Linked DNA regions of Homo sapiens: all the other regions are linked to region 1. Evidence: fine-mapped expression QTL. A gene starts in region 1. Each other region holds a variant in brackets. All regions are shown on one strand. Distances are from middle to middle.

Region 1 (5,000 bases):
TTATCTTGAATCCTATAGTCACTTACGGTGGCCTTTTGGGAGCATTAGGATCCTTCTTCTTCTTGCCTCCCTTAGCTGGTCCATAATCCTTCATTTCCCGATCATAGCGCACTTTATCTGCCTTTGCCATTTCATCAAATTTAGATTTCTCTTTCCCGGACATCGTCTGCAAAGAACAGGACTCGTTAAATCCCTCGATGCAGTGAACACATACCTATTCAGTTTCTTGTGATTAAACTAGCAGTTGCTAGAACCACTTGCAAAAGGGGGTAGGTAAAGGCCTGAAACCTGTGCAGGGCCTTAAAAAAATAAAAGCACACACACAAAATTCTTAAGACAAGCAAAAATGATTCTAAGTAAAAGTAAAAGAGGAAGCAAGCAGCTATCTGGGAGAAAATCTGAAGGTAAGTAACCCCAAAGTAAGAAACCCAACTAAGACTAGTTTGAAGGGTACCAAAGAAAAATACCTTCCACCTCTCAGAGCACTTCTTGGAAAATTCCGCAAAATTGACAGGGACCTCTGGGTTTTTCTTCTTATGTTCTTCTCTGCATGTCTGCACAAAGAAGGCATAAGCGGACATCTTGCCCTTTGGTTTCTTGGGGTCACCTTTAGCCATCCTGACTGTGATAAAAGAGAAACAAAGAAATACAATGAGGAAAAGCAAGGAGGAATTGACAAGAAGTACAAGACGTACCAAAGGCAGAGCAAAACTAAAACTACACTTGCTGTTAGGAAGTCCCCTTCCCCCAATGCCGGACACCAGTGGCAGAAGGCAGAGTAGGAAAGAAATCAGCTTCATTGTCGCTTGTCATTTAACTTTTGACCAGCACGAAGCGCGCTGGTTTGCGAGTTACTTCTCAAAAGCGATCAAGTGCTCCAAATGGAGCCGACCCAAGTAGGGTACTCAGTGTTACGTTTACAGAACTGCTATGTTTTGGAAACTACAATCACAAAGTGGGAAGGGTAGAGAGAGGACACATTTGGTGGGGGTGATAGAAGCTTGAAATCTATGACTTAAGACTATCTGGTCATCTGCTAACTGTTAACACAATTAAAAACAACAACTCTTACCACTGCTGAACACAAGACCAAAGCAGGAGAACTATACGTAGGGGACATCTGAAATTGTCACTATTGTTGATGTGTTTTGGCTTACTAAAAAAACGGCTTTACAACACGGGAGATCTGGAAAGTGAGCAGGTACCCCCGTACTATTAGTTCAATTCATCACTTCGTCACTATCTAAAGGGGGAGGGTGTATAAAAAGGGCTAGTCGTGCTCATCTGTAACCCAGAATGCAGGTCCAGCCGAGAACACTTTCTCCAAAGTTTCCAAATAAAAATGCAGCTGCGGCATGTCATCGTCCCTGTCCCACCCCCCAGCTTCCCGCCATCTTTTCCTTTTCCCACACCCAAGGTCATCATGTAAAACTAAAGAGCTCCCCTTGGCAGCAGCCGCCCAGGAGGCTGCCCAACAGAGACCCGCAGCGGCGGCCCGGGCGGGGCGGGACCGGGAGCGGGGGAGTCCCGGCCGGCAGCAGGCAGCCCGCCTCGGCCCCCGTGCCGGGTCACCGGGACACCCGTAATTCACCTTCCATTTTGTCAAAAGCCTCCTGATGAAAGAAAGTGCCCCTGAAATCCGCCGCTGTCATCCCCGGGGGACGCGCGGGGCCGGGGGCGGCGGCGGTGGCGGTGCGCGGGGGGTGTGCGGCCGGGCCGGCGGCAGCCGCGGCACTGGTGGCGGCGTCCGCCGCGCCTCGGAGTCCCACTCGCTAAAATGGCTGATCCGCGCGCGGCCGGCGCGGGCGGCGGCGACAGCGGCGAACAAAGCGGCCCGGGCCCCGCCGCCGCCGCCCGCCCGTCGGCCCCCACCCCGCCCCGCCCCGCCCCGCCCGGGCCGCCCGGGGGCTCGGGGGCCCGGGCCGGACCTCCCCGCCCCCCGGCGCGGGGCGCACTCCTCGGGATAACAAAGGCGCCCGTGCAGCCATGACGCTCGGCCGCTCCAGGGCCCGCAGCGGCGCCCCCGGCCCTCCGAGCCGCCCGCCCCGGGCCGCGGGCGCCGGGGCCGAGGCCGGAGCCCGCCGGGCGCCCCGCCGACCGCTCCGCCCGCCTCCCCTGCCCTCGCCGGAGGCCAGCGCCGCGCCAGCCATGTTAGCGGCGGCGGCGGCGCCGGGCGGGCGGGAGGCGAGAGGGGGGCGGCCGGCCCGCGCCCCCCCGGGCCACCGGGCGCTCCGCGACGGCCATGTTAACGCAGAGCCAGCGGCGTAGCCTGCGGGCCCGCGCGGCGCCGGGCCAAGCCCGGGAGCGAAGTTTGCCCGTGCGGCGGCCCCCGGCGGGCACCAGCCGCGCAGCCCCCGGCGGGCACCGGCCGCCCGTTCCCCAGCGGAGTCCGTCGCGGGCCGGGGAACTCCCGGCCCCCTTCCCGCTGCCGCCGCCCAGCGCCCACAGCCCGCAGCCGCCCCTCTGCTCGCCCAGCCGCCGCAGCCGCAGCTGCCCAAACATCTGGCCTCGGGGGCCCTGGGTTCCCGGCTGCGGCCCCTGGGGCCGCCACGGGCGGGCGTCCGCCGAGGGGGCCGACCCCCGAAAGCGGGGAGCTCGGGGAACGCGTTGGAAAAGTTGAAACACCTGAATTGCTTCTTCCTTCCCGGCCGCCTAGCAGGAGGGAAGGCGGAGGGGGCGGGAAGGGAATGGGGAGTAGAGGCAGGGGGAGGCGGCGGCAGGGCGCGCTCACGGCGGCGCGGGCCGGAAAGTTGTGCGGGCGCTGCGGCGGCGGCGGCGGCGGCGGCGGCGGCGGCGGCGGCGGCGGCGGCGGCGGCGGGAGCGGGCGGTGCGAGACGTACCTGTATTGTTCGCTAGTCTGGGCAGCGCAGGGCACGACGCGCGGCTCAGCGCTCCCCAGCCTCGCGCTAGCTGCCTCCACGAGAGCCGCCTGATTGGCCAGCGGGCTCTGCCGTTTAAAACAGCCTCCTCGCCTGGCCATTGGCTGCGGGCCTCATGCATATTAAGCAGGCGTGGACGCCCATTGGGCGCGGCTGCTGGGATCATTCATTCAAACAGAACGACCCGCCGGCGCCGGCTACGGAGGCCAAACAGGGAAAGACCTAGTCTCGCCTGCCCGCCCCGCCCACCTCGCCAGCCCCCTCGGGGAACAGAACTGGGATCGCCAAGGGCTTTGAAGAGGTGGCCCTGCGATTCCCGGAGGCCTCGGCCTCTGGCGTGGGAAGATGAAGTCCAGCCCCGCTGCGCTGCCCTCTGCTCCCACCGCACCGCGGCCTTGGCGCCCCTGGCCTGCAGTCAGCTCCCCTGCCCGGGGAAACACCCCTGGGCCCACCACGAAGGGCCGATGGTAGACCACCTCTACCCGGTTCGGCCGCGGCGCCGCGACAGAAACGCGGCGGCAGCTCGCTCCTCGATGCCTGGCGGAGGGCAGCTGCTTGCTCGCCAAGACCTCGGGATTTAGTCCTCGGATCTCGCTGCCTATCCGAAAGCCACCTGATTCCGCTTCTGCGGATCGTGCTCAACTAGGCTCTTTCCACTAAATGCCAGAAGGTCTTTATTTGCGCCCGAAATTGCGGAACCGACGGGCTAAAAGAGGAAAACAAAATTTGGCAAGAGCAGAGAATTTGTGAGAAATTGTAGTTTTGTGGGCAAAGAATAACACTTTTCTTCTTACCCTCTTCACTGTCTCGGTTCAAGGCCCTCATTCCCTCTGCTCTCCTGACACACCCTAGAGCAAAGAATTAAAGCTTCGGGAATGAATGAGTGAATGAATGAATGAATGGGATTTGACTTGATCTCCACTTTGCCATTGGCTGGTGGTATGGCCTTGAGCTAGTCACTTCTTTGGGGATTCAGGCAATGTTTTTCAAAGTATAGGAGCCGCAGTGTCACTTCTGTAAGGGATGTTCTGAAATTCGTGGGGCCGGTGCCTGGATGACTGGCAGGTGTTGCTGGAATTCAATAAGAGGAAGGAACGGCCGGGGATACTAAATATCCTACATTGCATAGGACAGTCCCACGCAAGGAAGAAATACTCCACTTCAAATGCAAGTATCAGCCCTATTTGGAAAGAAAGTATCTGAGGGCCCTTGCCTGGAAAGAATGAAAGGGTGAGAAAAAGAGCAGTTTAAAGATTGACAGTTGGAGAAAATAATGCAAAGGAAGAGATGTCATGAGTTTGGTTTTTCTTTTCTTTGAAAGGCCAAGAGATCCAGCTATTTATGAGTCCTATATTCAGAAATAAGCCCCACCAGAACATGAATTTTCCAAATGCTGCTTCCAGAAACCGTGGCTGAGTTTGAGGTGTGCAAAGGATCTGGCTTCACAGGGCACCTGCTTCTTCACCCCTACGCCCCCTCTTACCAACTCCTCTGAGCCTCCCAGCCAAGCCTGAGCCCCTGAAGCTGGTGCTGTTGGCTCCCATCATCAAGGTTCCAATCCAGATCAAAAGGCAAAGATAGAGGCCAAGCGCGGTGGCTCATGCCTGTAATTCCAGTACTTTGGGAGGCTGAGGCAGGCGGATCACGAGATCAGGAGTTCAAGACCAGCCTGGCCAATCTGATGAAGCCCCGTCTCTACTAAAAATACAAAAAAATTAGCCAGGTGTGGTGATGCATGCCTGTAGGAGGCTGAGGCAGGAGAATCGCTTTAACCTGGGAGGTGGAGGTTGCAGTGAGCCAAGATCATGCTACTGCACTCCAGCCTGGGCAACAGAGCAAGACTCCGAAAAAAAAAAAAAAAAGGCAGAGATAGTGCTGCTTTTGACAAGAGCAGGCAGGTATTGTGTCACTAACCCAGGTCCCCACTACAGACTCAGGAGTTCAGAGATCTTAAGGCCACCTCATCCATCCCTCTGTCCTGTTAGAACCAGCTTAGTGGTTGCCTGCCTTCTGCTTGCATACCTCCACTCATAGGGAGCTTACCATCTTCCTTCATGGCAGTTCCTTCCATCTCCAGCCACCTCTGAGCCTTAAGGTCAACATCTCCACACAGGGTAATCC
Region 2 (6,482 bases), 63 kb after region 1:
CATTCACGAAGGAATTCATGTATGTATGGCTACATACAGCCCAAGGGGGCCGTGGGAGTTGTTTGGGCCCTATGCCCTGACACCAAGCTTATTTAAGAGGTGTCTGTTCCTAACACACAGGGAAACCTCACATCAGGGTGCAGTATATATATGTATTTTTGAGACAAGGTCTTGCTTTGTTGCCAAGGCTGGAGTGCAGTGGTGCCATCATTACTCACTGCAGCTTCTACCTCCCAGGCTTAAGCAATCCTCCACCCTCAGTCTCCCGAGTAGCTAGGACTATAGGTGTGTGTCACCCTGCCCAGCTAATTTTTTGTAGAGGTAGGGTCTTGCTACGTTGCCCAGGCTGGTGTTGAACTCCTGAGCTCAAGTGATCCTCTTGCTTGGACCTCTCAAAGTTCCGGGATTACAGGCATAAGCCCCAGCCTGGATGCAATATATATATATATATATATATATATATATATATATATATATATATATATATATATATATGTATGTATATAGACGTGTATGTGCATATATGTGTGTGTGTGTGTGTGTGTGTGTGTGTGTGTGTGTATATTTTTTTTTTTTTGAGACTGGGTCTCTGTCACCCAGGCTGGAGTACGGTGGCACCACCATGCCTGGCTAATTTTTGTATTTTGTTGTTGTTGTTGTAGAGATGAGGTCTAACTATGTTGCCCAGGCTGGCCTTGAACTCCTGAGCTTAAGCAATCTGCCCACCTCAGCCTCTCAAAGTGCTGTGATTACAGGCGTGAGCCATTGTGCCCAGCCAATCATTTTAAAATTGAGATAAAACTCACATAATATAAAATTTAACATTTTAATCCATTCTACAACATGAATGAACTTTGTTTTTTGTTTTTGTTTTTATTTTATTTTGTTTTTAAGACAGGGTCTTGGAGTCAGGTGTGGTGGCTCACGCCTGTAATCCCAGCACGGTGGGAGGCTGAGGCGGGCAGGTCTCGAAGTCAAGAGATCGAGAGCATCCTGGCCAACATGGTGAAACCCCATCTCTACTAAAAATACAAAAATTAGCTGGGTGTGGTGGTGTGCACTTGTAGTCACAGCTACTCGGGAGGCTGAGGCAGGAGAATCGCTTGAACCCGGGAGGCGGAGGTTGCAGTGAGCCGAGATCATGCCACTGCACTTCAGCCTGGCAACAGAGTGAGACTCCCTCTTAAAAAAAGAAAAAAAAAGACAGGGTCTTGCTCTGTCACCCATGCTGGAGTACAGTGGTGCCATCTCTGCTCACTGTAGCCTTGACGTCCCAGGTTGAAGCAATCCCCCCATCTCAGCCTCCCAAGTAGGTGGGACTACAGGTGCATGCCATCATATCCGGGTAATTTTTTGTCCATTTGTTTGTTTTTGTAGAGATGAGATTTCGCCATATTGCCCAGTCTGGTCTCAAACTCCTGAGCTCAAGTGATCCACTTGCCTCAGCCTCCTAAAGTGCTGGGGTTACAGGCGTGACCCACCACACTTGGCCGACAAATGAACTTTGAAAACATTATGCTAAGTGAAATAAACCGGACACAAAAGGCCAAATATTGTTTGATTCCACTTATATAAAGTACCTAGAATAGTCAAAATCATTGAGAGCAAATAGATTAGAAATCTCCAGTGGGGTCTGGGGGCGGTGACTCACGCCTGTAATCCCAGCACTTTTTTTTTTTGGGAGGCCAAGGCGGGCAGCTTGCCTGAGGTCAGGAGTTCGAGACCAGCCTGGCCAACATGGCAAAAACCCATCTCTACTAAAAATACAAAAATTAGCTGGGTGTGATGGCGCATACCTGTAATCCCAGCTACTCGGGAGGCTGAGGCAGGAGAATTGCTTGAACCCTGGAGGCAGAGGTTGCAGTGAGCTGAGGTTGCACTGCTGCACTCCAACCTGGGTGACAGACTGAGATGCCATCTCAAAACAAAACAAAACAAAACAAATCTCCAGGGGCTGGGGGAAGGGAGGGAGTAATAGCAAGTATTTAATGGGTATGGAGTTGCAGTTTAGGATGATGAGAAAGTTCTGGAGATGGATGGTGGTGACAGTTGCACAATATTGTAAATGTACTTAATGTCAATGAATTGCATACTTAATAGTGGTCAAAATAATAACTTTTATGATATATATAGTGATAATAAAATGTTTAAAAAAGACATTTACCACTTAACCATTTTAAAATGTACTACCTGTGGTTTCTAGTACATTCACAGAGTTGGGCAATCACCATTATAAAATCAATTTTAGAATATTTTCTTCACCCTACAAGAAACCCTGCACCCATTAAGGAGTCATTCTTCATCCCTCTCCCCCCAGCCCCTGGAAACCATTCATCTGCTTTCTGTCTCTGTGGATTTGCCCATTCTGTACATTTCATATAAATGGAATCATACAACATGTGTCTGATTATGTGTCCTATCTTCTGTGTCTGGCATTTTCCATTTAGCCTAATGTTTTCAAGGTCCATCCATGTTTGAGCACAGATCAGTATTTCATTTCTTTTAATGGCTGAATAATATTCCATTGTATGACTGGATCACATTTTGTTTATCCATCCATTGCTTGATGGACATTTGGTTTGCTCCCACTTTGGCTATTATGAATGATGCTGCTATGATCATTTGTGTACAAGCATTCCTGTGAACATGAGTTTTTATTTCTCTTGGGTATATATCTAGAAATGGAATTTGCTGGCTCACATAGTAACTATGTTTATCAAGACGCAACTTGCAGTAGAATCCAGCGCATCAACTCTGAGTCTCTGAGCTGTTGGAGGACATAGACAGCCTAGAAAACAGAAGGGCAAAGGCAATTGAAAGAATCTCCTTTTTAGCTCATACTTCCATTTTTCTCCCACCCCAAAGTGGGTCTGTTATTGAGTCACAAAATTGACAAGTTTGAGTTTGAGCTCCCCTCCTGAGCTGTGAAATCAACCCAAGAGTAGGGTTTCAGTTGGCAGAGGGGTGGTCAACTGGTACATCTGGAGTTGACTTTGTCTATTATCTTTCTAATCATCCCTTTAGCCTAGAAAGCCTTTGCCTTTAGAGCTGTTGGGCCAAAATCTAAAATCAGCTTGTGAAAGTGCTGTCTCGCAGCCTCCTGGTATGTGAGAATTTGTCCATACTTGATACACAAATAACTATTTTGCTATTGACTGTTCCTCAGCCTGATCTATTCAAATGAATCTCTTTGAAGACATGCCACCTACAGATCACGGTATTTCAACAACATTTGAACTCTTTCCAAGTATAATCTGTAA[T/C]AATTTCTTCATTTTCACAATATTTGCCCTTTGAAACAGGCCCTGAGCTTGTGCGTTTAAAGGGGGGAGTGGGATTTAGAGAATGTCAAGCAAGCGAAATGGTTTAGGTTGGTTCATTCTGTTCTGTGCCCATGAATAGCGCTTGATTCATGGACCGCAAGTGGAATGTTGAACAGGACAGGCTCGTCATGGGGTACAGCAGAATTAGACTCAGCATACTCTCCAGACTTTCTCTCTCTGACCAGATGGGCAAGCCAAGCCTCAAATAAGCACAAATCCTCTGATAACAGTTTATACTTCCAAACAGCCCACAGGAAATGGGACCCTTGATAAGAGAAGCAGCTTCACTTGTAAATTACAAGCATTCACTTACTAACATTTAAACTGACAATTATCACAGCTTCAAATGCTGGGCTCCATTGGAAAGCAAGTCAAGTTGTTCATCTGTTGGGTTGGTGGCTGATCCCTTCTGTGGTTTGCTTACAAGTGAAAACCCTGCTGCTGGTTGGAACCCATTCTGCTTGATTTGGACTTGACAGAAGTACCTGGTACAAAGGAAAAGACCTTTTAGCAGGGAGAACAGGGTGGCAGGTGTGGCCCCCAGGGGGCCACTGAAAAGCCACAGCAGGGTAAGTCACACTGCCTGCAATGCTGCAATGGCACTGAGCCCATGTGAAGGCACAAGGCCTGGTTTATGTTGCCACTGCCTTCCTGTGTGACCTTGGACAAGTTGTTCCCCATTTCTGGGCCTCAGTCCCTTCCTCTTTAAACATGGGGGCTGAAGCAGATTACACTGAGGGAGGCCCCTGCTCTATTGTGCTGTGCTTGGAAAGCCTCTCATGTAGCTCTCAATGCAGATCTGATGAAGAACCTGCAAGGACATGGATTACATTTCATTTTCTTTTTCTTGTTTCTTTTCTTTTTTTTTTTCTTTGAGACAGAGTCTCGCTCTATTGCCCAGGCTTGAGTACAGTGGCGCTATCTCAGCTCACTGCAACCTCCGCCTCCTGGGTTCAAGTGATTCTCTTGCCTCAGCCTCTTGAGTAGCTGGAATTACAGGTGCCCGCCACCAAACCCGGCTAATTTTGTTTTGTATTTTTAGCAGAGAAGGGGTTTCCCTGTGTTCGTCAGACTGGTCTCGAACTCCTGACCTCGTGATCCGCCCACCTCAGCCTCCCAAAGTGCTGGCATTACAGGCGTGAGCCACCGCGGCCGGCAGCATTTCATTTTCAAGAGATGAAGGGGTGTGTTGAGAAATGCACTTTACACATGTACCCTAAAACTTAAAGTATAATAATAATAAATTTTAAAAAAAAAGAGAGAAATGCACTTTAGAATTGTGTTGTCTGGAAAGGATAGGCTAGGCCCCAATTCAGCAGCTAGACCCTGGCCTTGATCTATATAGAATCTTAGAAATCGTTTCAGTGTGTATGCTTTCCGCATTCATCCTGTTTCTAAAGACACGATGACTCCTTTTCTTGACAACTAAAAGCTCCTGGCATGAGCTCTCTCAGTCTCACTCTCTGAGCTCTGGATCACAGGGTGAGTGTGGAAAGGTGGGCAGAAAAATCTGTGTATGATTCCGTTCAGCCATGGGTGGGACGTGGCAGAGCCTCAGAGGTGTGTCTCAAATGTGGGGCTAACCAAAGGACCTGCCAAACCTCTTTTTGCTTTTCTCTAGCAGTTTTGGAACCCAGACTTTCCATATTATCCTGGCTCAACCCTCATGCGGGAGGAGAGTCATGGGGCCTCTAGGTTGAAAAGGACCTCAAAGGGAGACTAGGCTGGATATCTTGAAGAATGGGAACTCCCTTCCTACAGAGGCAGCTCCTCCATCTTGAGGTTGTTCTGCCCCTTAGGAAGTTCCCGAATCCAGCCAGGCAGGCATGGTGGCTCATGCCTCTAATCCCAGCACTTTGGAAGGCCAAGGCGGGGAGGATCACTTGAGGCCAGCAGTTAGAGACCAGCCTGGGCAACATAGTAAGACTCATCTCTACAAAAATAAAAATTAAAAAAATTAGCTGGGTGGGGTGGCATGTATCTATCGTTCTAGCTACTTGGGGGGCTAAGGCAGGAGGATTACCTGAGTCCGAAAGTTTGTGTCTACAGTGAGCTATGATCATACCACTACACTCCAGCCTGGGTGACAGGGTGAGACTCTGTCTCTTTTAAAACAAGAAAGTTCCAGAGTCCATCACCCTGTAGCTTTTCCCCTTTATCCTTATTTTCATAAGCTGAGGCCACAGAATACAGATCAAATTCCCCAGGAGCTCCCTCCAGGAGTCTCCCTCATCACTCCTTTCCTTTTTACCCCTTACAGTCATCTTTTTCTCCGGTCCAAACACTCACCAAGATTATTCATTGTATGAAAATTCCGACTTCCATAGGTCAGGTGCAGTGGCTCACACCTGTAATCCTAGCACTTTGGGAGGCCAAGGCGGGCAGATTGCTAGAGGTCAGGAGTTCAAGACCAGCCTGGCCAACATGATGAAACCACATCTCTACTAAAAACGCAAAAATTAACTGGACGTGGTGGTGCATGCCTGTAGTCCCAGTTACTCGGGAGGCTGAGGCAGGAAAATCGCTTGAACCTGGGTGGCAGAGGTTGCAGTGAGCCAAGATCACACCACTGCAGTCCGGCCTGGGTGACAGAGAGAGACTCTATCTCAAAAAAAAAAAAAAAAAGAAAAAGAAAGAAAAGAAAAGAAAAGAAAATTCTAACTTCCCTTTAACATCCTGATCACTGGCTCCTGAAGCAAATCCAGCCTGTTAATGTCTCTCAGAGAGGCTACTGGTACCCAGAACATGACATGCATCCAGGCACTGTGAGCTGACCAGGAGATGAGTGGGATATCACCTCTGTCCGTCTAGAGCAGAATAAGCTCCTCAGAGGGTATAGGGATAAAAGATGTACAGAACTTTCTGTTGTGATTCAGGAAGCATCTCTAACTCTCTTAGCCCGTTTTCTGTTGTTTATAACAGAATACCCCAAACTGGGTAATTTATAAGGAAAAGGAATTTATTTCTTACAGTTGTGGAGGCTGAAACGTCCAAGGTTGAGGGGCTGCATCTGGTCAGGGACTTCTTGCCGGCGGGGATTCTGCAGAGTACTGAGGTGGCAAAGGACATCACATGTCGAGGGGGCTGAGCATGCTCACTCAGGTCTCTCTTCCTTTTCTTATAAAGCCACCAGTTCCACTCCTGTGATAACCCATTAATCCA
Region 3 (6,482 bases), 25 kb after region 1:
TACTTCTTTATACTATTTGATACGAATCAGGAATTACTTTTATGACCAGAAAAAATACAGTATAAAGGGAGAAAAAAACCTATGCAACAAAACATTTTTCAAATAGATCCTAGAAGGTACAGGTACCTGTGAGGTAATTCTGAGGATCTGGGAGTCCTCACATATGTCATCCCCACTATCAGGGGGTGGACAGGATGTTGCCAGGTCACAGGGAAAAGGAAAGAGCTTAAGCTGGGAAGCAGGTACCAAAACCTGTGGTCCTAACTTGTGCCCTGGGGCCAGCATTTGGTGTTTCTCTTTATATTGCCCTGTGGTTATGCATGGTGCACGCTATCTTCTGGCAGCAAAGCCAACCAAAGCGAAACGAAAACCAACTCATGATTTTCACTAGACTTGTTGTTGTTGTTGTTGTTGAGACAGGGTCTCGCTCTGTTGCCCAGAGTGGAGTGTGGTGGTGCGATCTCCGCTCACTGCAACCTCCACCTAGGTTCAAGCAATTCTCGTGCCTCAGCTTCCCAAGTAGCTGGGATTACAGGTGCGTACCACCATGCCCGGCTAACTTTTGTATTTTTAGTAGAGACAGGTTTTTGCCATGTTGGCCAGGCTGGTCTCAAACTTCTGGCCTCAAGTGATCTGTTCGCCTCAGTCACCCAAAGTGCTGGGATTACAGGGATGAACTGCTGTGCCCAGCCTCCACTACACTTTAGCAGAAATAAAAACATCTCAGCTCAGGCACAGCTCTCAAATCTACAGTCTTTCATGATGAAGGAGTCAAGTTTGGGTTCCCTATTCCTGAGTTAAATAAAAAGTAATGCTGTACTTTTCGGTTTTGTTTTTTAGTTTTTTGTTTGTTTGTTTGTTTTTTGGTTTTTTTGTTTGTTTGTTTGTTTTTAGACAGAGTCTCACTCTGTTGTCCAGGCTGGAGTGCAGTGGTGTGATCTCGGCTCACTGCGACCTCCGCCTCCCAGGTTTGAGCAATTCTCTGCCTCAGCCTCCCGAGTACCTGGGATTACCAGCACCTGCCACCACGCCCAGCTAATTTTTTTGTTTTTAGTGGAGACAGGGGTTTCACCATGTTGGCCAGGCTGGTCTTGAACTCCTGACCTCATGATCCACCCACCTTGACCTCCCAAAGTGCTGGGATTATAAGCGTGAGCTACCGTACCCGGTCTTCTTTTAGGTTCTTTAAGACATAAGAATGTATAGAAAGCTACTGAGATAGGAATTATTTGGGGGAAAGGGGATCTTAGAACCTGATTTTTGAAAGGGCCTGTGGTAGGCTACAAACTGGTCCCCCAGTAGAGATCCACATTCTAATCACCAAAACCTGTAAGTGTTAACTTACTTGTTTTGTTTCCTCTCTCTCTTATTACCCACAATAATGTTAATTTAAATGGCAAAAATAAATAAATAAATAAAATGAGGTTTATGTACATGTGATCATGTTTAGGATTTTGAGATGGGGACACTATTCTGGATTATCTGGGTAGGTCCTACATGCAACCACGTATATCCTTATGAGGGAGGCAGAGAAAGATTTGATGCACAGATGAGAAGGTGATGTGAAGCTGGAGCAGAGACAGATTTGAAGATGCTGGTCTTAAAGATCAGAGTGATGCATCCTTAAGCCAAGAAATGCAGGAAGTTGCCAGAAGCTGGAAGAGACAAGGAATGGATTCTCCCTTTGAGCTTCCAGAGGAAACAGGGCCCTGCCAGCACCTTGGTTTCAACCCAGAGATACTGATTTTAGACTTCCGGCCTCCAGAACCGTGAAAGGCTAAATATTCCTGTTGTTCAAAGCCCCCTAGTTTGTAGTACTTTGTTATGGCAGCCCAGGAAACTAACACAGAGTCCTTAGAGTTCATCTAGTCCAAGGTATGGGCTTTTTCCTTTGTTTGTTTGTTTGTTTGTTTTTGAGACAGGCTCTCCCTCTGTTGCCCAGGCTGAAGTACAGTGATGCAATCATGGCTCACTGCAGCCTCGACCTCCCAGGCTGAAGCAATCCTCCCACCTCAGCCTCCCAAGTAGCTGGGACCACAGTTGGGCACCACCGTGCCCAGCTAATTTTGTTTTGTTTTTAGTAAAGACAGGGTCCCAGTATGCTACCCAGGCTGGTCTCAAACTCCTGGGCTCAAGCAATCCTCCTCGGCCTCCCAAAGTGTTGGGATTACAGGCATGAACCACCATGCTCAGTCTCTAATGATTTTCTTAGCACCGAAATCAATTACTTTTCAAATGAAATCATTGCCTATAGAAACAACAGATGCAAACAGAGGAGTGATGATTGAAAAAGGAGGTCCAGATCCCCACCTGCTAAATCCCCTCAATGGTGGCTCCTGAAGCACCTCCCAGGACCTTCCACCAACAGAGTGTGAAAACACTTGTCTAGTTTCAACCTCATTGTACAGATGAATAACTTGAGCCTCTAGGGGCTGAGTGATTGGCTGAAGGCCTCCCTTAGCAGGCAGCAAGGAACACTTATGGGGAGGAAAACAAGGCAAGTTACTCCTGCCTGCTCTCTCATCTTCCCTTGCCTGGTTTGGCCAAATCCCTGTCTCCCAAGCAAACAACTAAGAATACGTTGCTGTCTCTATATGAATTTTGTTTTTAGCACTAGTTCCAGTTTTGAACAGGGACTGCCAGCTGTGTCAAATATGGCGAGGCTCAAATGAAGTATTTGCTCATGAAGAGCACAGACCTGGAGCAGGCTGTTAAGGCATCTTCGGAGATGAAAAATTACTGCCTGATTCCTCACCTGTATTTGCAAATTGAGTCTCGTGGGTATGACTGCAACAGTGGGTGTGAGGAGGTGGGCAGGAATGAATAGCAAAGTTAACCAGCTGTCGGTGAACCCGGAAATATGAATCCCTAAGTGGATCAAGAAGAGCCCAGATAAGAGCACAGGTGAATGCCACATCACATTTTTCTTGTTGTTGTTAGATTTTAAAACATTTAAGGTCAGTTCTGCTAAAAGGCCTTTGTGGAGGATAAAGAAAAGGTTATAATAAAATATTACTCCCCTTTTCCCTCTGGCCTTGGTACTAACAGACAAGACATTAAAAGTCAGGTTCTCTTTCCTTCCCAAGCATAGTCAAGATAGGATGGCATTTTCTCCTTCCTTCCTTCCTTCCTTCCTTCCTTCCTTCCTTCCTTCCTTTCTTTTTTTGATGGAGTCTCACTCTGTCGCCCAGGCTGGAGTGCAGTGGCGTGATCTCGGCTCACTGCAACCTCCACCTCCCGGGTTCAAACCATTCTCGTGCCTCAGCCTTCCGGGTAGCTGGGATTACAGGCGTGTGCCACCATGCCTGGCTAATTTTTGTATTTTTAGTGGAGATGGGGTTTCACTATGTTGGCCAGGCTGGTCTTGAACTCCTGACCTCAAATAATCCTCCCGCCTTGGCCTCCCAAAGTGCTGGAATTACAGACGTGAGCCACCGTACATGGTAGGACGGCATTTTCAAAGGGAACTTTACAAGGAACTATGAGGAACCCAATGGGGCATTAAACAAACAAGATCCAAACCCTCTCCAGGGGTTAAAAATGACTGACCGTTTACCAAGCTGATTCCGAATTCGCGACCGTTTAGATGCCTATTTCCAGGGCCACTGGCCTCATCCCTGCTACTTGACCAAGTGGCACTGAGAGAAGTATTGCATCCGGAAAGAGGAAGGCCAGGGTGTGTTCCAAGAATGAATCAAATAATGGGAAGCCTAACTAAGACCAGTGGATGAGCCAACAATGCCAGCTGGCTGCTCAAGGCTGCTGGGAGGGAACACTCAGTGCAGCAGATGGAACACAACTGGCAGGCAACAGCAAATGGCATTAGTGTGGCTTCCTTTGTTCCTTGGTGTTGCTAGGGAGGATGTCCTCTCTCCATTCTG[C/G]AGGCCACATGGTTCCACCCTCCCCAAACAGTAGGGAAGGATGAAGGTCCCTAGCTGCCACCCACTGCTGCTCCAACTGAAGGAACAATGTGTCTTTTTAATTTATTTATTATTTATTTATTTATATTTGTTTATTTATTTTTTGAGACAGGCGTGGCTCTGTCGCCCACACTGGAGTGCAGTGGCACCATCATGGCTCACTGTAGCCTCGACCTCCCAGGTTCAAGAGATCCTCCCACCTCAGCCTCCTGGGTAGCTGGGACTTCAGGCATGTATTGCCATGCCCGGATTTTTTTTTTTTTTTTCCCCGAGACGGAGTCTTGCTCTGTCGCCTAGGCTGGAGTGCAATGGCACGATCTCTGCTCACTGCAACCTCCGCCTCCCAGGTTCAAGCAATTCTCCTGTCTCAGCCTCTGGAGTAGCTGGGACTATAGTCGCGCTCCACCACGCCCAGCTAATTTTGAGTAGAAATGAGGTTTCGCGATCTTGACCAGGCTGGTCTCGAACTCCTGACCTCAGGTGATCCACCTGCGTCACCCTCCCAAAGTGCTGGGATTACAGGTGTGAGCCACCACGCCCGGTCTATGCCCAGATAATTAATTTTTTTTTTTTTTTTTTGTAGAGACAAGTTGTTACCTGCTGTGTTGCCCAGGCTGGGGGACCATGTGTCTTTATGCAAAACACACCAGGCACTTGCAGAGGTGGCCAGCTTTCCCCAGAAAGGACCTCTCACAGACTTTTTCTTTCCATTTGTTTGTTTGTTTGTTTGTTTGTTTGGCTTTCAGGTAATGTTGCTTCTCAATTCATGATCTCACCATCATTGGTCTGTGAGATTCTTCTCTGGCTGAATCAATCTATCCATCTCTCCAGTCTTTTTAATTACTGTTTTCCACTCTAATGCTCCTCCCCTCAGTGGCAACCACTCAAGTGTGTGCTCTGTCAAACTGTGTAGAGGGGTGTGTGTGTGTGTGTGTGTGTGTGTGTGTGTGTGTGTGTTTTCAGTAAACATAAGTGGTAGTGGCCTGGAGAGTGTGTTCAGTCTCTTACTGGGTGCTTTTCCACTGAGCCCTGTGTGTGTTAACTGTCCATGCTGCTGTGTGTTCCTGAGTTGCTTGTAACCACTCATTTGCTTCTATTTTTCCCCAGTGGTGGACACCTGGATTGCCTCCAATTCTGTCCTAGCACAGGCTCTGTACAATAAACATCCTTGCATGGGTCCCTATAGCAGGCTCAAGATGGACCCCAAAGGTATCAGGTCCTAATGCTTGGAGTCTGTGAATGTTGCCTTATATGGAAAAAGGGTCTTTGCGGATGTGATCGTGTTGAGGATTTTGAGATGGGGAGATTATCCTGGGTTATCAGGGTGGGCTGGAAAGGAAGTCACATGTTGTATTGGTTTTCTGTGGTTGCTGTAACAAAGTACTGTACCACAAATTTGGTGGCTTAAGACAATAGAAATCTACTCTCTCACTGTTCTGGAGGCCAGAAGTCTGAAATCAAGGTGTCAGGAGGGCCACAGTGCCTCCGAATCCCCTCCTTGCCTCTTCCGGATTCTAGTGGACTCAGGTGTTCCTTGGTTTGTGGCAGCATCACTCCAACCTCTGCCTCGTCTTCACATGGTCTTCCCTGTCTCTCTGTCCTTTTGTCCTCTTATAAGGACAGCAGAAATTGGATTAAGGGCCCCTCCTACTCCAGTATGACCTCATCTTAACAAATTACATCTTCAAAGACCCTATTTCCAAATAAGGTCACTTTCTGAGGTTCTAAGTGAATGTGAATTTGGGGGGACATTATTCAGCCCACTACTCTTATATCCTTATAAAAGAGAAGCAGAGGTAGATTTGACACTCACACAGAGAAGGCAGAGTGAAGAGGGAGCGGAGAGATTCGAAGATGCTGGCCTTGAACATCAAAGCGATGCAGCCGCAGACCAGGGAAGGCTGGCAGCCACCAGAAGCTGGAAGAAGCAAGGAGTGGAGACCCCCCAGAACCTCCTGAGAGAGCATAGCCCTGCTGACATCTGGGGTTCGGCCAAAGGATACTGATTTTGGACCTCTTGACTCCAGAAGTATCAGAGAATACATTTCTGTTGTTTTGAGCCATTGAGTTTGTGATATTTTGTTACAGCAGCCACAAGATACTCAGTCCCTTTGTGGGCCTGCAGGAGAATTTCTTGAGGTTATACCCAAGAATGGGCTTACTGGGACAGTGTGGGCACAGACAAGATTTGGCTAAATGCTACTAGGTGGCTCTCCAAAGCGCCTGCATCCATCTAGCAGGACTCCCAGCAGCGGCACACAATGGTTCCTCCTTCTGCTTATTCTAGCCAACACTTGGCATCATACAGCTGATTTTTGCCAATCTGACATGTGTGTATCCTATGTCATTGTTGTCATTTCCATTTCTCCGATTACTAATGAATCTGGGATCCCAGCATCTCTTCACATACTTACTTGCCAGCCTTTTCAGTTTCTTCTCCTAAGAATTGCCTATGCATATGCTTTGCTCATTTTCCTGTTGGGTCTTTTTCTTGTTGTTTTGCAGAATGTTCTTGCATATTTTATCCATTAATCTCCTGTTGCTTTTAAACAGCAAATATCT
Region 4 (6,482 bases), 220 kb after region 1:
AGGGATTCTAAGCTTTGTGTCTTGCCTTCAGATGCAGCAGCAGGTCAAGGTAACGCTGCTTTGCCTTCCTCACTTTCCTTTTGCTTCAGCCTTGATGCTTCCTCATTCGCCCCCTGCTCTGGCGCTTCCTTGCCGCTCTTCTCCCTCCTGCTTCCCTGGCACTCACCGACGTGGCTGTAACCAGGACCATCTTTAGCTTACCCTGATGCGTGTGAGAGGATGCCACCTGCCAGACACTCTGTCCCCAGGCTGGATGTGGCAGGGGTGGGGGGAGAGTTGAGGTGCCATGGTGAGGACTCAGGTGCCCACTGGTGGTCATGCCTGGGGAGCACATAGAGGGCCACCCACAGGAAGGAGACGATCCAGCGCCCACTGGGTTGGCAGCTAGCAGTGATCACGAGGCTCAGGGTGTGTCTCCTGGCCCCCACCTGTCAGCTGGGAAGGTGCACCTGGGGCAGCTTCCACTGCACTCATCACCTGCCCCGCTCTGCGTGGGGCCGGCCACACCTGCCAAAGAGCAACGCCCGCATTTGCCACAGGCCCATTTGGCTCCCACCTCAAGCCCAGCAGCCACCGGGGCAGGCAGGTGGTGGGCATTCTTGTTTAGGCAAGGAGCCTGTAGCCCAGGACGATGGCTTGACTTGCACTGGTGCCTGGTCGGTCGGTCGGTCGGTTGGAACCATGCCCCAGTTTTCCCACAGACCCGGGGCTGAAGGGTTCCAGTCCCTGTGCTACGCAGGGATGAGACACAGACTCTTGACTCTCTGCAAGCAGCAGCAGGGGTGGGGTCCACTCTAAGAACTTGAACACTGGCCCTTGCTGGCGGGAGGGAATGCTTGGTACAGTCCCCGAATCCCTCTTGTAACAGGTGTAGAGAAAGCCTAGATAACTAACTAGACTGAAGCAGCTGCTGGTGGGCTGGCCCCTCCAAGCTCAGGTGGACACAGCGGTTATTCCTGCTGCTGGGAGGAGCAGTTGGCCTCCGCGCGGGTGTTGCTGGGAGGCTGCATGTTGGCAGGAGGCTTTGCTGCATCTACATGCTGAGCCCCACTCAGCCATCCGCCCCTCCCTGCCCTGCATCCATCAATCACTCATAGCGATTGGCTCCCTGGCCCCCGGGCCGCACACGCACACGGACCTGTGGATGGTGCTGAGCCCTGCCATCGGGCGCCCCCTCCACTGGGCGGAGCTGCCGTCTTGACGCGGTGGCAGCTGCCCTATGAGGATGGAGTGCCGGAAGCCTTCGCTGCATGTCGTTGTTATTTCTGAGGACGATGATGAGAACTCCTGGGCAGTGAATTCTGGGACGAACAGTCTTCATCCGGATAAGGATGTTCAGGTGGCTCAGGGTGCAGGGTTTTGAGTTCCCCAGGGGAGCTGTGCTGCTTTTTTAGCTGCAGAGGACTTGGTCAGGAGTTCTCAGTCACGATTGGGGACCCTTAGGTCCTGTGCGCATCACTAACTCTGCCCTTTTCCCTTTGCAGAGGGTCTCAACGCAGACTACGTGAAGGGAGAGAACCTGGAAGCCGTGGTATGTGAGGAACCCCAAGGTGAGAACTTTGTACTCACTGTCCCTTGCTGACGCTTTCCTAGTTGGTCCCAGCACTGAGCAGAACTGTGCTAGAGAAGCAGGGAAGCACAGAGGCGTCTGCTTCTAGAATGTCCGGCCAGAGCAAAAGCCTGCCCTGATGAGCCTGCCTCCCAGTTTCAGGAGCCCAAAGATGCTGGGGTGACAGCCAGGGCCATCTGCTGCCATGCCTGTGACTTCTGGGCATTGCGGCTGCTCGGCCCCTGCCCTTGATTCGTCCGTCCGAGCCAGAGCCCCAGGCACCTCTGCTCCCCATCAGCGAATACAATTACATCCTGAACAGAGCCATGGGGAAGCTTTTCACCTAGACCTAGAACTTTTCCCTTTGCAAATTGCCACAGGCAAGAGGGAACTTGGGTAAAACCCAGACCCTATTGTCAACACCTGTGCCCCTCCCTCCCCCTTCTGTGGTCATCAAGCACTTTCTGGATTCAGGAGCTGTTGGCAATTTGAGGTCGCATAAGTTCAGGCCACAGGCCTAGAGTGCCCAACTGCTCGAGGCAGATATGACCTGTGCCCACGGGATGCCAATGAGGAGGTCCGGAAAGGCTTGCTGGGGTCGGGGAGCAGCCGAGGCCTGGTGGCGCAGGCAGGGAGACTAGGACAGCTCAGGCGAGTGTTGCCAGTGGAACTACAGTGCAGCAGCCGTGGGGACTGGGCCTGGGAGACCAGGAGGGGCTCAGCCTGTGTGGTGTGTACTGGGAGCCAGGTGCCCTACAATGCTGCTGAAGACGGGTGGCAGTGCTGCACCAAATGAACTAAAATAGGCCTGGGTTCAGATGTGGAAAAATGGATTCCGCTGTCGCATCCACTGTCATGAGCTTTGCCACGGTTAGCCACCACGAGGCCAGCATCTGTGTGGGCAGGTGCTAGGTTGAGCCCTTTGTTTAAAATAACCCTTCCAGCAGCGCTGGCAGGAACACGCTCATTTTTTAGGTGAGGAGATGGAGGCTGAGCTGTTTCCAGAGCCTGTCCAGCTTTCTCTTTCTCTCCCCTTGACCGGCCCAAAACTGCTCCCAGGCTCAGGAGGGAAGGTTGCTAAGCGGCCCCCCAGGGGATACAAAGGGAAACCCAGTTCTGTTCCCAGCACGGGCTTGCTGCTGTATTTGCTTCTTCTGTGCAAGACAGAGCAGAATTCCTTCTGACGGCCTCTTTTTCCCCTAGTGAAATACTCCACGTTGCACACGCAGTCTGCAGAGCCGCCGCCGCCGCCCGAACCAGCCCGGATCTGAGGGCCCTGTCCAGCTGCAGGCATGCACAATGGTGCCACCGCTTGTCACCCGGCTCCCCCCACCCCTTCATTTGGACCCGCAGCTGCTGTGCTGCTCTGTGCCATCGGCTCCTTGTTGGTCTGAGTTTCCCGGATGAGCTCTGGGTGTTTGTGAGTTTGGTTTCTCTGCCCTGCCCCAAGCGTGCTGAGACTTGGTGCCGAAATTCAAGAGCCAGCTCTGATAGAAAGCCAGCACCAGCCTCGGGAGCTGCTGAGCCACCAACTCCCAAAGCCAGCCTGCCTCCAGCTTTACTGAGCACAGGATGCGGGGGCCAAGATGATGCTGAGGCCTGATGACATTTATGCTTAGGGGACAAGAGTTTGAACTCAAGGGACTGTGACCCCTGCACACTGGAGTGGCTCATTGTGGCAGGTTTCTGCCAATAGACAGCCCCTGACAGTGGCCTCAAGGAGCTGCAGGTGGGGGGCTCAGCCTGCACCCACTTGGAGCCCCTGCAAGGAGCGAACCGGTCAGCACCAAGTAACACCACACACACGCAGCACCCAGGATGATGGTTTCACTTCAGTCTTCCCCATCCCAGGTTTTATGTTGCTGGGCTTCCGGAGAGCCGGTCCAAGCGGAGGCTTTCAGTGATTTAAGTACAAACATGCATCTCGTGATAGTCCTGCCTTGAGAGCTTAGGAATCTTCCGGATAAGTATGAAGCAATTCGTAGGCCTGTTTCCCATCTGATTCCATAGGGGGCTGGGTGTGGCCTTC[G/C]GGTTGACATGAGAAAGGTCTTTAGCAATCATTTCTGCACCGGAGATGAGTTTTATCCTGTGTTGGGGAGAGGTGCTCACCCTCCACCCTGTGTCCCTGTTTTGGTAGCAAGAGTGACCGATGTCAAGAACGAGCATCAAAGCCAGAATCCTGCTTGTTTGCTTAAAAATGTAATTGGGGGCGGCGGGGGAGGAGAGGGGAAAGAGACATTCGCTTGGTTTAGTGAAACGCAGGTGACTTTGTAGCTCTGTGGTCAGCCTACTTGTCTGCTCTGAGGGAGAGTGCGTGGGGAGCCATGCTCACCGTGGCAAACACAGGAACCCCATGACTCGCCCCTCACCTGGCGTGGAGCTGCCTGGTTTGGGCTGGAGCAGAGCTGGTTTCCTGGAATGTTCCTTTGGCCCACATATGGTTCTGTCCCGGTGAGCTCTGTTGTCAGAGGCTCACGGGACAGAACCACATGCTAGGGTCTAGGGCCCCTGTCTACTGATAGTCAGTTTGCTGTGTCAGAAAGCACTTCTGAAAGCAGATATGAGTCACCAGACAGGCAGGATCTTACAAAACTCACGGGCCTCTTTGGTCTGCATGATGGCCCCATGCGTTTCATAGGCTGTCCACTGAGCGGGATTGTCTGCTGAGTGGGATGAGCCAACTCCAGTTTCTTAAGGAAACCACTGGAATCTGCAGCCCCCACATGCATCTGTCTAACGCATGCCTCGTGTTCGTTTTGCAAACATGCCTGTGGTGGAGGGTGGTCAGTTGTAGCCCTGTGCGTCTCAAGGCTGCCTTGTGAGGCCATTCCCAGTGCGTGCCCTTGAGCTCCTTACCACCCCTTTTCCTGCTCGGCCCTTTAATCCCTGACAGACCTGGACTGTGTGGCTGAAGGGGGACCTGCAGCACTGCAGAAATGCCTCTGCGTGGTGCCATGAAGGAAAGAAACCTTGGCCTGGTCTCGAGAAGCTTCCCATGCTTCAGGAAGTTAGTAAGGGTGGGGTGGCTTGCAGGATTGGCCTGTTTCCAGGGCCTCCCACACTCATTGGCCAGATTGTGAACTTTGTCAGGCTTGTCCCTCCCTGATACCAAGTATGTCGAGAACCGATGGCCCCACCCTCTGGCTGGTGCTGGGCCGGAGGTGGCTATGGAGGATTTTGGCATGCGTGGCCTGTCGCCACCTGGACAGCGTGACCTCAGGGGTTGTCCACTTTACCTTTATGGTGAGGCCTGTCGGATGGCTAAGTCCTTGAAACCCTAGAGCTGTGACGTAGAATATGTGCTGTCTGTGAGACCGTGTTCCCAGGAGCACTGACTGCAGTTGAGAGAGACCCATTTTGCTCTCCCTTACCGCCCCCCGCCCCGGGTGCTTTCTGCACAAAGCCTAGAGCCTGGCACTCAAGCCCACCGGTGGCAGCTCCTAGTGACTGGACATGCCTGGAAGACCCCTCAGCCTTCTGTTTGCAGAACGTTCATTTCAGGAGCTTCTCCTTCCCACAGACATCTTACACTTGCTCGACACTGCCACCTGCAGAAGCCTGGCGGGCTCTGGTCACCATGTGTCTATCTGAAGGTTGCACTGGCCAGCATGGGCCTGTCCCAAGCGAGAGGGGAGACACAGTGGACTGAAAGGACTGGTTGAAAGTGGCCAATCTCTATCAGCTTAATTTGGCAGAGAAAATTTGTAACAACTCTGAGCACATGCTGGGTGAAGTCACAGCTCAAGGAAAGATAAAGCTGGGCGGAAGGAGGTGTGCGTGGCTTCTGGGGTGGGACCCAGAGGGGAGGCTCTGGGACAGGGGCTGGGGTTCAGTGCCAGGGCCCTGAGGAAGAAATGGGGACTGATCTCAAAATTCCAGAATTCCCTGTACATCTGTTCACGTGCTTGTGTCCAGGTGTGACTTGTAAACTGTCTAGTGTTTGCATTAAATAAAATGGCACCGAGCAGATTCTTGTCTTCTGATGGTGTTAAGGCACGCCCTTGGTCAAGTGTTGCCACTTTTCCCTAAAGTAAGTAATTTATGATGCAGAGCTGCCCTCCTCCCCCTCCCCCCGCCCCGCCCCCAGCTGAAGGTATTTCTCGAGAAGCTTAGAATTCTTGCATTTACCCCTCAGTGACTGGCTCAGTGTCAGGACTTCCAAGGGTGACTCCTCACCGTACAAGCAGCTAAGGCCAGGGGATGTGGAGCGACCAATGTCCTGGGGTTAGAGAGGGCAGAGGCAGGAGCAGAGTGCTGCGGGGCCGCTCCCGGGCTACATGGGTTGCGCAGTCCGGGGCCTGGAAGCAGCAAAAAGTCCCAGGCTCACAAATCCCAAGTCGACTGCTCTGCCGCCTTCCAAGCAGGCTGGTAACCAGTGGAGGTTCCAGTTAACGCGCAGTTGTTTTTCAACCAGAAAGCTGGGTGAGAAAGGAGCCCTGCACCTCGTCACTTGTTGCAGCCTCATGGAGAGTGGCCCGTTTGGGATGAAGTATGTCCTTCTCATCAGCTCGCATGTTGGCTTCAAATTGAGAAGACGACAGTTCAGTTCAGGGCATTTCAGCATGAAAACAAACAAGATGCAGTGGACCCTGGGTTTTAACATGGAGGTCGGTTGTTTGTTTTTTCATTTTGTTTTGCCAACCTCGGCTTCTAGTGAAATAATAGCATCAGGTCCTCTCAAACCCGAGACCACCATATGCCTGTCTCGTGCAGGAGTTCTGCATGGCTAGCTGCTATGGTCTCACTGCTGGGGAAGGCTGGCTGGCAAGCAGTCCCCTGGGCATCCTCTGTGCCCAGTGAATACCGGGCTCTCTGGCTCACTCAGTAGTAACGTGTGTGGAGAGGGACAGGGACCCCACACCCTTAACAAGAAGACCGACAACACACAGAGGGCACAGGGGGTGGTGTGATTTCATCCAGGCCTTCGTGGCCC
Region 5 (6,482 bases), 130 kb after region 1:
CGGATCTATGCTCCAACATGGATGAAGCTTGAAGACATGCTGAGTGAAAGAAGCCAGTCATGAAAGAGCATGTACTGGATGATTCCATTCATCTGAGGTGACCAGAGCAGGCAAATCTATAGAGACAGAAAGGAGATTAGTGGTTGCTGGGGGCTGGGGGAGGGATGATGAGGAGGATGGACTGTTTAATGAGTCCGGGTTTTCCCTTTGGGGTGATGGAAATGTGGAAAATGATAGGTGATGGTTACACAACATTGTGAATATACTAGAAATCACTGAATTTCACACTTTCAACAAAGCTGTTCAAAAAGGAGTCTGAGGTGCCCAAGCAGAATTTAGTGAAGGGAAGAGATGGGAGGAGTCTTCCGGGCAGAGGGACCCCTGAGGGCCCTGAGGTGGGATAGAGCCTGCTGAAGTTTAGCAACCAAGTGAAGTCCAGAGGTCCAGGGTGTGATGGGGAGCTGTCATCCTGTGCTCAGCCATTGTCCTTACAGGTTTGGAAAACAACCACAGCTCCCCAACTGGCCTCCTACAAACAAGTCTCCACACAACAGAGCGAACTTCTAAAAATGTTGTTTTGGCCAAATGCACTTCTGCAACTCCAGAGTTGGCCCCTTTTAGTGTAAGTTCACCACCCTGGCACACCTTCCTTAACTACCCAGCATAAAGTGGATTTTCACTCTGGAGTAATGATGTGGAGAAGAGTTCTTTCATCCAAGCAGTAGTGAACAATTTAAATGCTTGAAACAGTAAAACAGATGATGGTTATTGGCTGTTGTGGTCAGTAGACTAATGTTCCCTCCCTGCTCAGAGGTCCACATCCTAATCTCTGGGACCTGTGAATATGTGACGTTACATGGCAAACGGGACTTTCAAATAGGGCTAAGTTATGGATCTTAAGATGGGAAATTGTCCTGGATTATCCAAGTGGGCCCAATGTGATCAAAGGGGGCCTGATATGTCAAAGAGGGAGGTAGATGTGATTATAGAAGCAGGGTTTGGAGTGATATACTTTGAAAATGGAGAAAGAGCCATGAGCTAAGTAAGGAATGCAGGTGACCTCCAGAAGCTGGCAAAGGCAAGGAAATGGATTGGAAGCTTCAGAAGGAACACAGCCTGCTGGTGCCCCGGTTTTAACCCAGGGCCACCCATTTTAGACTTCTGATCTCTGGAACTGCAAGGTCATAAAATTGTCCTGTTTTGAGCCACTATGTGGGAATTTGTTATAGCACCAATAGAAAATACAGCTGTCTCATCATAGCACTTTACTTTTAGAGCACCTTAGGGGCAGGCATGTGTGGGGGAATCAGACCTGTCCAGCTGCATGACCCCGTGCTGCTGCATCTATCTGAGCCTCAGCTCCTCATTGGTGAAAGAGGCTGCTCATCGGCACCATGCCAGCTCACAAACCACTGAAGTGTTGATGCCATGTGTCTGACATGGCAGCTGCTCCTTGCTAGGTCCTCAATAAGTGGATGTTGTCCTATATTATCTAATCCCATCCCTTCCTTCTACAGAATGGGAAAAGGGAGGAAGAAGATGGGAGCAATTTGCCCAAGTTCGAAGGCACAGAATCAAGTGAAGGATTCAGATGTCTTGACTTGGAGGGGAGGGCTTTCACATTTGGTTAGAAAATACTCATGGTAGGCTGGGTGCGGTGGCTCACACCTATAATCCTAGCACTTTGGGAGGCCGAGGCAGGCAGATTACCTGAGGTCAGGAGTTCAAGACTAGCCTGGCCAACATGGTGAAACCCTGTCTCTACTAAAAATACAAAAAATTAGCCGCGTGCCGTGGCACGTGCCTGTAATCCCAGCTTCTTGGGAGGCTGAGGCAGGAGAATCACTTGAACCCGGGAGGCAGAGGTTGCGGTGAGCTGAGATCGTGCCACTGCACTTCTGTCTGGGTGACAGAGCGAGACTTCATCTCAAAAAACAAAAAAAAAAGAAAGAAAAAAAAGTACTCCTGGTTAGAGAGTTTCTTCAGTCCTGGATTGGCTGTGATACAAGAAACACCTCACTTCTTAGGCAGCATCTGTACAATGTTGTTGCACCTGGGGCTCAACCCATCAGTGGCCTGTGCAAGTAGTTGAGTTGCAACTAGCATATTGAATGAGATAAAATGGAATAGGAAATATTAGTCCTTCACACAAATAAGATCATCCTTTGTTGCAACATTTGTTTCTATGGAGTATCACTTTGTTGTACTGTGTTTCTATCACTTTGTTGCAACATTTATCTCTGTGAGAATCACTTTGTTGCAACATGGGTAGCCCTCTGGTGTAATATTTGTTTCTATGTGCACGTCCGCTGGTGCCTACATGTTCTAGGTAGGGATGGGAAATTTGGGATCCCTGTCAGGGGCATGTGTTCTGTGAAACTGGGGGATAAACGTGGTCTACTAAGTTGCTGGGCTCTGAGTGGTGAGCATGGCCACTGCTGAGCTGGCCTTAATGGTGAGGTGCCTGCTGCCAAGCCTGGCTTGGTTCATGTCTTAAGGGACACATGTGGGCTGGAATGTGGCTTAGAAAGTAGGCAAGCTAGATTCCACTTTAGGACATACAGGAGACTTTCTTTGGGCTCCTCCTGCTTCCCTCTCCAACCTGATCAGGCATGTTCAACAATCTAGACTTGCAGGATATTTGTCATTTCTAGTTTTTTGTTTTGTTTTGTTGTTTTAATTGGCTTGTTGTGTCCTCAGAACATCTCTATTCTTGGCATACCTTCCCCACTGGGCTTGTAAACAGGCACAAATACAGAGTGGAAAAGGGGAAAGGTCAGCTGAATAGCTGTAATTTTATTTTGCGTAGTATTAAATGCTTATTTAATTTATATTATATAGAACTGGCTTAGGGATTTAGTTGGCCAGATCAAGCAGATGTGGGCCTAGTAATGTTCCTTGAAGTTGTCATACATCCTATCTCCCATTTTCTACAGATGCAGGAATCAGTGGGTTCTTACTCACTTGGAAGATTTGTGGTGTGGAATGAGCCAGACTGATTGCCTGCTTCCATGACAAGCTGGCTTCAGAAGGTTATGGAGCAGGATGTACTGATATACAAGGGCTAGCTCATTCTGTGTTTTGTTTTGTATAGTTTCAATTTGAGACAGAGTCTACCTCTGTCTCCCAGGCTGGAGCGCAGTGGTGCGGTCATGGCTCACTGCAGCCTCAACCTCCTGGGCTCAAGCAATCCTCCCACCTCAGCCTGCTGAGTAGCTGGGACTACAGGTGTATGCCACCACACTTGGCTAATTTTAAAAAACTTTTTGTAGAGATGGAGTCTCACCCTGTCACCCTGGCTGGCTCAAGTAATCCTCCTGCCTCAGCCTCCCAAGTAGCTGGGACTACAGGCATGTACTACCATACCCAGCTAATTTTTAATTTTTTAAAAATTTTATAGGGACAGGGTCTCACTATGTTGCTCAGGCTGGTCTCAAACTCCTGGGCTCAAGCAATCATCCTGCCTTGGCCTCCCAATGTGCTGAGATTACAGTCATGAGCCACCGTGCCTGGCCTCATTCTGTTTTTGACGCTGCTCACCAGATTGCTTAGTCAGTGTTTACAAAGCACCACAGAAGTGCCAACGGCTGTTGGGGCTTCATCGCCTAACTGTGTACACAGGTGTTGAATTTGAGTGTGATTGTTGATAGAGGCCACAGTCTGCCATTAGGTATATTTGGGAAGGGAATTTGAGCAAGCTGTTTCCC[G/A]GCAGTATGACGCACATGGACAAGTTCATGGAGAAAAGTTGCACAAGTCAAAGGGAGGAAGTGGTTGAAGTGGAGGTTGTGGTGGGGAGACAGGATCTCCTGGTGCGGGTAGCCAGTGACCCTTAGCACGGGATCCACATGTCTAAAGGAGCATACGACAGCAGGGGACAAACTTATTCTTTGTAGTGCCAGGGTAATCTACTGGCCAGTTTTGGGGTCAACACAAAAAACTTTCCAAAAACGTGACTCTTCCAACGAATGAATGTACTTCCAAAGCACATGCCTGGGTCCCCAGCCCAGTGAATTCTGAGGGGGAGGAGGTTTCTGAGGTTGGTCAGCTCATCCTCCCTGGCTGAGAACCTCTATTATACACTGGAGATTACTTTGCTGCATTTTAGGGATGGTCAATTAGATGATATTTCAGATTCTGTCCAAAGTTAACATGCCTTGAGATAATTGGCTTTGTCTTTCTGAATTTTGATTTTTAAAAAGCATCACTTGCTGTTTTTTTTTTTTTTTTTAAATTGTGGAAAAAGAACCCACATAATACTTACCATCTTAGATGATTTCTAAGTGTATTGTTAGTGGTGTTAAGGGTGTTCACATTGTTGTACAACCAATCTCCATAACTTTTTTATCTTGCAAAACTGAACCTCTAATCATTAAGCAATTTCCCATCTCCCACTCTCCCCAGCCCCTGGCAGTCATCATTCTACCATCTATCTCTGTGAATTTGACTACTCTAGGGACCTCATAAAATGGGAATATAGTATTTGCCTTCTTGTGATTGACTTATTACACTTAGCATAATGTTTTCAAGGTTCACCCATATTGTTAACCACTTGCCGTTATTTTATTTCTTCTTTTCTGCATTTTCTAAGATTTTCACAGTGGACACACATTATTTGAAAACAAATAATATAATTTATGTAATACTGTGAGAGGTATAGTACAAGGGGGGGGGGGCCTGCAGGCCATAGTTAGGCATATGGAGCTTATATTCAGTGTAGTGAGGAGGCCTTTGGGAGTTTTGAGCAGGGAAGTGATGTGCCTTGAAGTTTGTTTAAAAAGGAAAAAGGAGGACTCCCTGCCTGCTGTGTGGAGAATGGATTGGATGGAGCATAGACCTGGAAGGAGCAGGAGGATGGTGCTTGTGGCTGTCCAGGGGAAAGATGATCGCTGCCTGGCTTGGTAGTGGCAGTGGAAAAGTGGTGGGCTTTGTGCATGTGCTGGGGGTGGAATTGACAGTTCTTGGTGACAGGGTGGCTATGGAGAATGAAGGAGAAGATGTCGGGACAGTGTACAGCTTTCTGGCTTGGACAATGCAGTGGGTGGCTGTGCCATTCAGTGAAACAAACAGGGAACTCAGGAAAAGGGTCTAGGTTGGAGAGCCAGGGCTTGGCATTTAGTTTTGTGGATTCTGAGTGGGAGCTGGCTGTGAGATACTGAGGAGTGATTTGAGAGGGAGCAAGCAGATACAGCAAGGATAGATAGTCATTTTATGAGTTTGGTTATGAAGGGGTGGGAGAGAAAGCAGTATCAAGATGGGGATGTACAGTCAAAAGAGGGTTTTCTAGTTAAAATGGGAGAGATTTGAGCATGTTTAAAAATAGATGGAATGATACTTCCCAAATTGAACTACAGATTCAACACAATCCCTATCAGAATCCCAGCTGTCTTTTTGCAGAAATTGACAAGCTGATCCTAAAATTCATACAGAAATCCAAGGGACCCAAAATAGCCAAACAAGCTTGAAAAACAGGCACAAAGTTGGTAGACTCACACTTCCCCATTTCAAAACTTACTACAACACAACAGTAGTTAAGACTGGGTATTACTAGCACAAGGATAGCTGGACCAGGATTACTAGCACAAGGGAAGACAGAGTCCAATTCAGGACATGCTTCCTTGGAGGTGCTATGGAAATCTCCCCTGGGTAGCAGGACCTGCAGGATTGGAATTGAGGACAAAGGTCTGGGTTGGGGATACAGGGTAGGAGGTGCCTCGTGCTCAGCGCCTTTCTCCCTCTGCATTGGCCTGGCCAGATGGCAAGGCTGAAAATCTTGATGATTTCTGAGGTCCTGTTCCACTCTGCCTGGCTCTGATTTGGAAATGTTCATACATGCAACACCAACTAGACATAGATTCTTACCTGACTTAAGAAAGTACACAGGATCCATTGGTGTTTATGCTGCCTTCAGGGGAAGGAAATACCATGTGCATTTGTTATTAGTCAACAGACTGATTTGGGGTGGCCTTGTCCAAATCACTTACATTCTTGTGCCTCAGTTTCCCAAACTTATGTCGTATCAGTAGAATCTAAAGGCTTATCAAGCACTGGGTGAGTTTAGATTAGAGTGTGGCTTTTTTCTCTCTTCATCCATTAAGCTTTTGAACATTTTAATGATTCTCTTATAAGCCATTTACTCATGCATATTTATTGAAGGCCTTCTACTTACTAGTGGATTCTACTTAATACCAAATTTAATAATAATATTAGCTAACATTTGAGGGATTCCTATGTCACATATTGTGCTAAATGCTTTATATATAATGATTATTTAATCCTCACATTAACTCACTGCAGTAGGGTCTCTTGTTATCTCCATTTTATAGATGAGGAAACTGAGGTATAGCGCTGTTAAGTCCCTTGCGCAAGGTGTCTCTCCTGCTAAGTGGCAGAGCTGGTGTCTGCATCCTGCCTGTTTGGCTCCAAAGCTGGTCACCAGTGCCGATATCCTCATGTGTTGCCCTGGAACAGCCTTTGACCAGAGT

Alleles and levels. Alleles are on the strand shown, and positions count from the first base shown. SD is a standard deviation of normalised expression in the study named. Not every link is listed here.
As copies of C replace T in region 2, the expression in tibial nerve of the gene that starts at base 2,882 in region 1 goes up (moderate effect, 0.47 SD a copy in GTEx).
For the expression in spleen of the gene that starts at base 2,882 in region 1, allele G in region 3 goes with a higher level than allele C (small effect, 0.26 SD a copy in GTEx).
For the expression in whole blood of the gene that starts at base 2,882 in region 1, allele C in region 4 goes with a higher level than allele G (small effect, 0.12 SD a copy in GTEx).

What was found. PIP is the estimated chance that this variant, and not a neighbour inherited with it, causes the effect.
Region 2: its variant is fine-mapped to the expression of HMGB3 in tibial nerve (GTEx, PIP above 0.99).
Region 3: its variant is fine-mapped to the expression of HMGB3 in spleen (GTEx, PIP above 0.99).
Region 4: its variant is fine-mapped to the expression of HMGB3 in whole blood (TOPMed, PIP above 0.99). The same link has a PIP of 0.9 or more in T cells, blood mononuclear cells and monocytes.
Region 5: its variant is fine-mapped to the expression of HMGB3 in nasal epithelium (TOPMed, PIP above 0.99).

What each region holds. Positions count from the first base shown.
Region 1 is chrX:150,981,217-150,986,216 of GRCh38, reverse strand. HMGB3 (high mobility group box 3) reads right to left here and starts at 2,882. Exons shown (of 5, transcript NM_005342.4): 1 at 2,841-2,882; 2 at 468-622; 3 at 27-166. The coding sequence starts at 617. RefSeq lists a silencer at 2,852-3,051 and an enhancer at 3,173-3,868.
Region 2 is chrX:150,917,092-150,923,573 of GRCh38, reverse strand. It overlaps LINC02927 (long intergenic non-protein coding RNA 2927), which reads right to left and starts at 6,372. Exons shown (of 3, transcript NR_186570.1): 1 at 6,291-6,372; 2 at 3,638-3,805; 3 at 2,636-2,788. The variant T/C (reference allele first, on the strand shown) is at 3,261.
Region 3 is chrX:150,955,679-150,962,160 of GRCh38, reverse strand. No RefSeq gene overlaps it. Among named protein-coding and RNA genes, the nearest start is that of HMGB3, 24 kb to the left of the region's middle. The variant C/G (reference allele first, on the strand shown) is at 3,882.
Region 4 is chrX:150,765,372-150,771,853 of GRCh38, reverse strand. CD99L2 (CD99 molecule like 2) reads left to right here. Exons shown (of 11, transcript NM_031462.4): 10 at 1,485-1,550; 11 at 2,753-5,518. The coding sequence ends at 2,820. Among named protein-coding and RNA genes, the nearest start is that of MTMR1, 75 kb to the right of the region's middle. RefSeq lists a silencer at 4,057-4,166. The variant G/C (reference allele first, on the strand shown) is at 3,579.
Region 5 is chrX:150,846,303-150,852,784 of GRCh38, reverse strand. The region is part of intron 1 of CD99L2 (CD99 molecule like 2); the gene reads left to right. Among named protein-coding and RNA genes, the nearest start is that of CD99L2, 49 kb to the left of the region's middle. The variant G/A (reference allele first, on the strand shown) is at 3,708.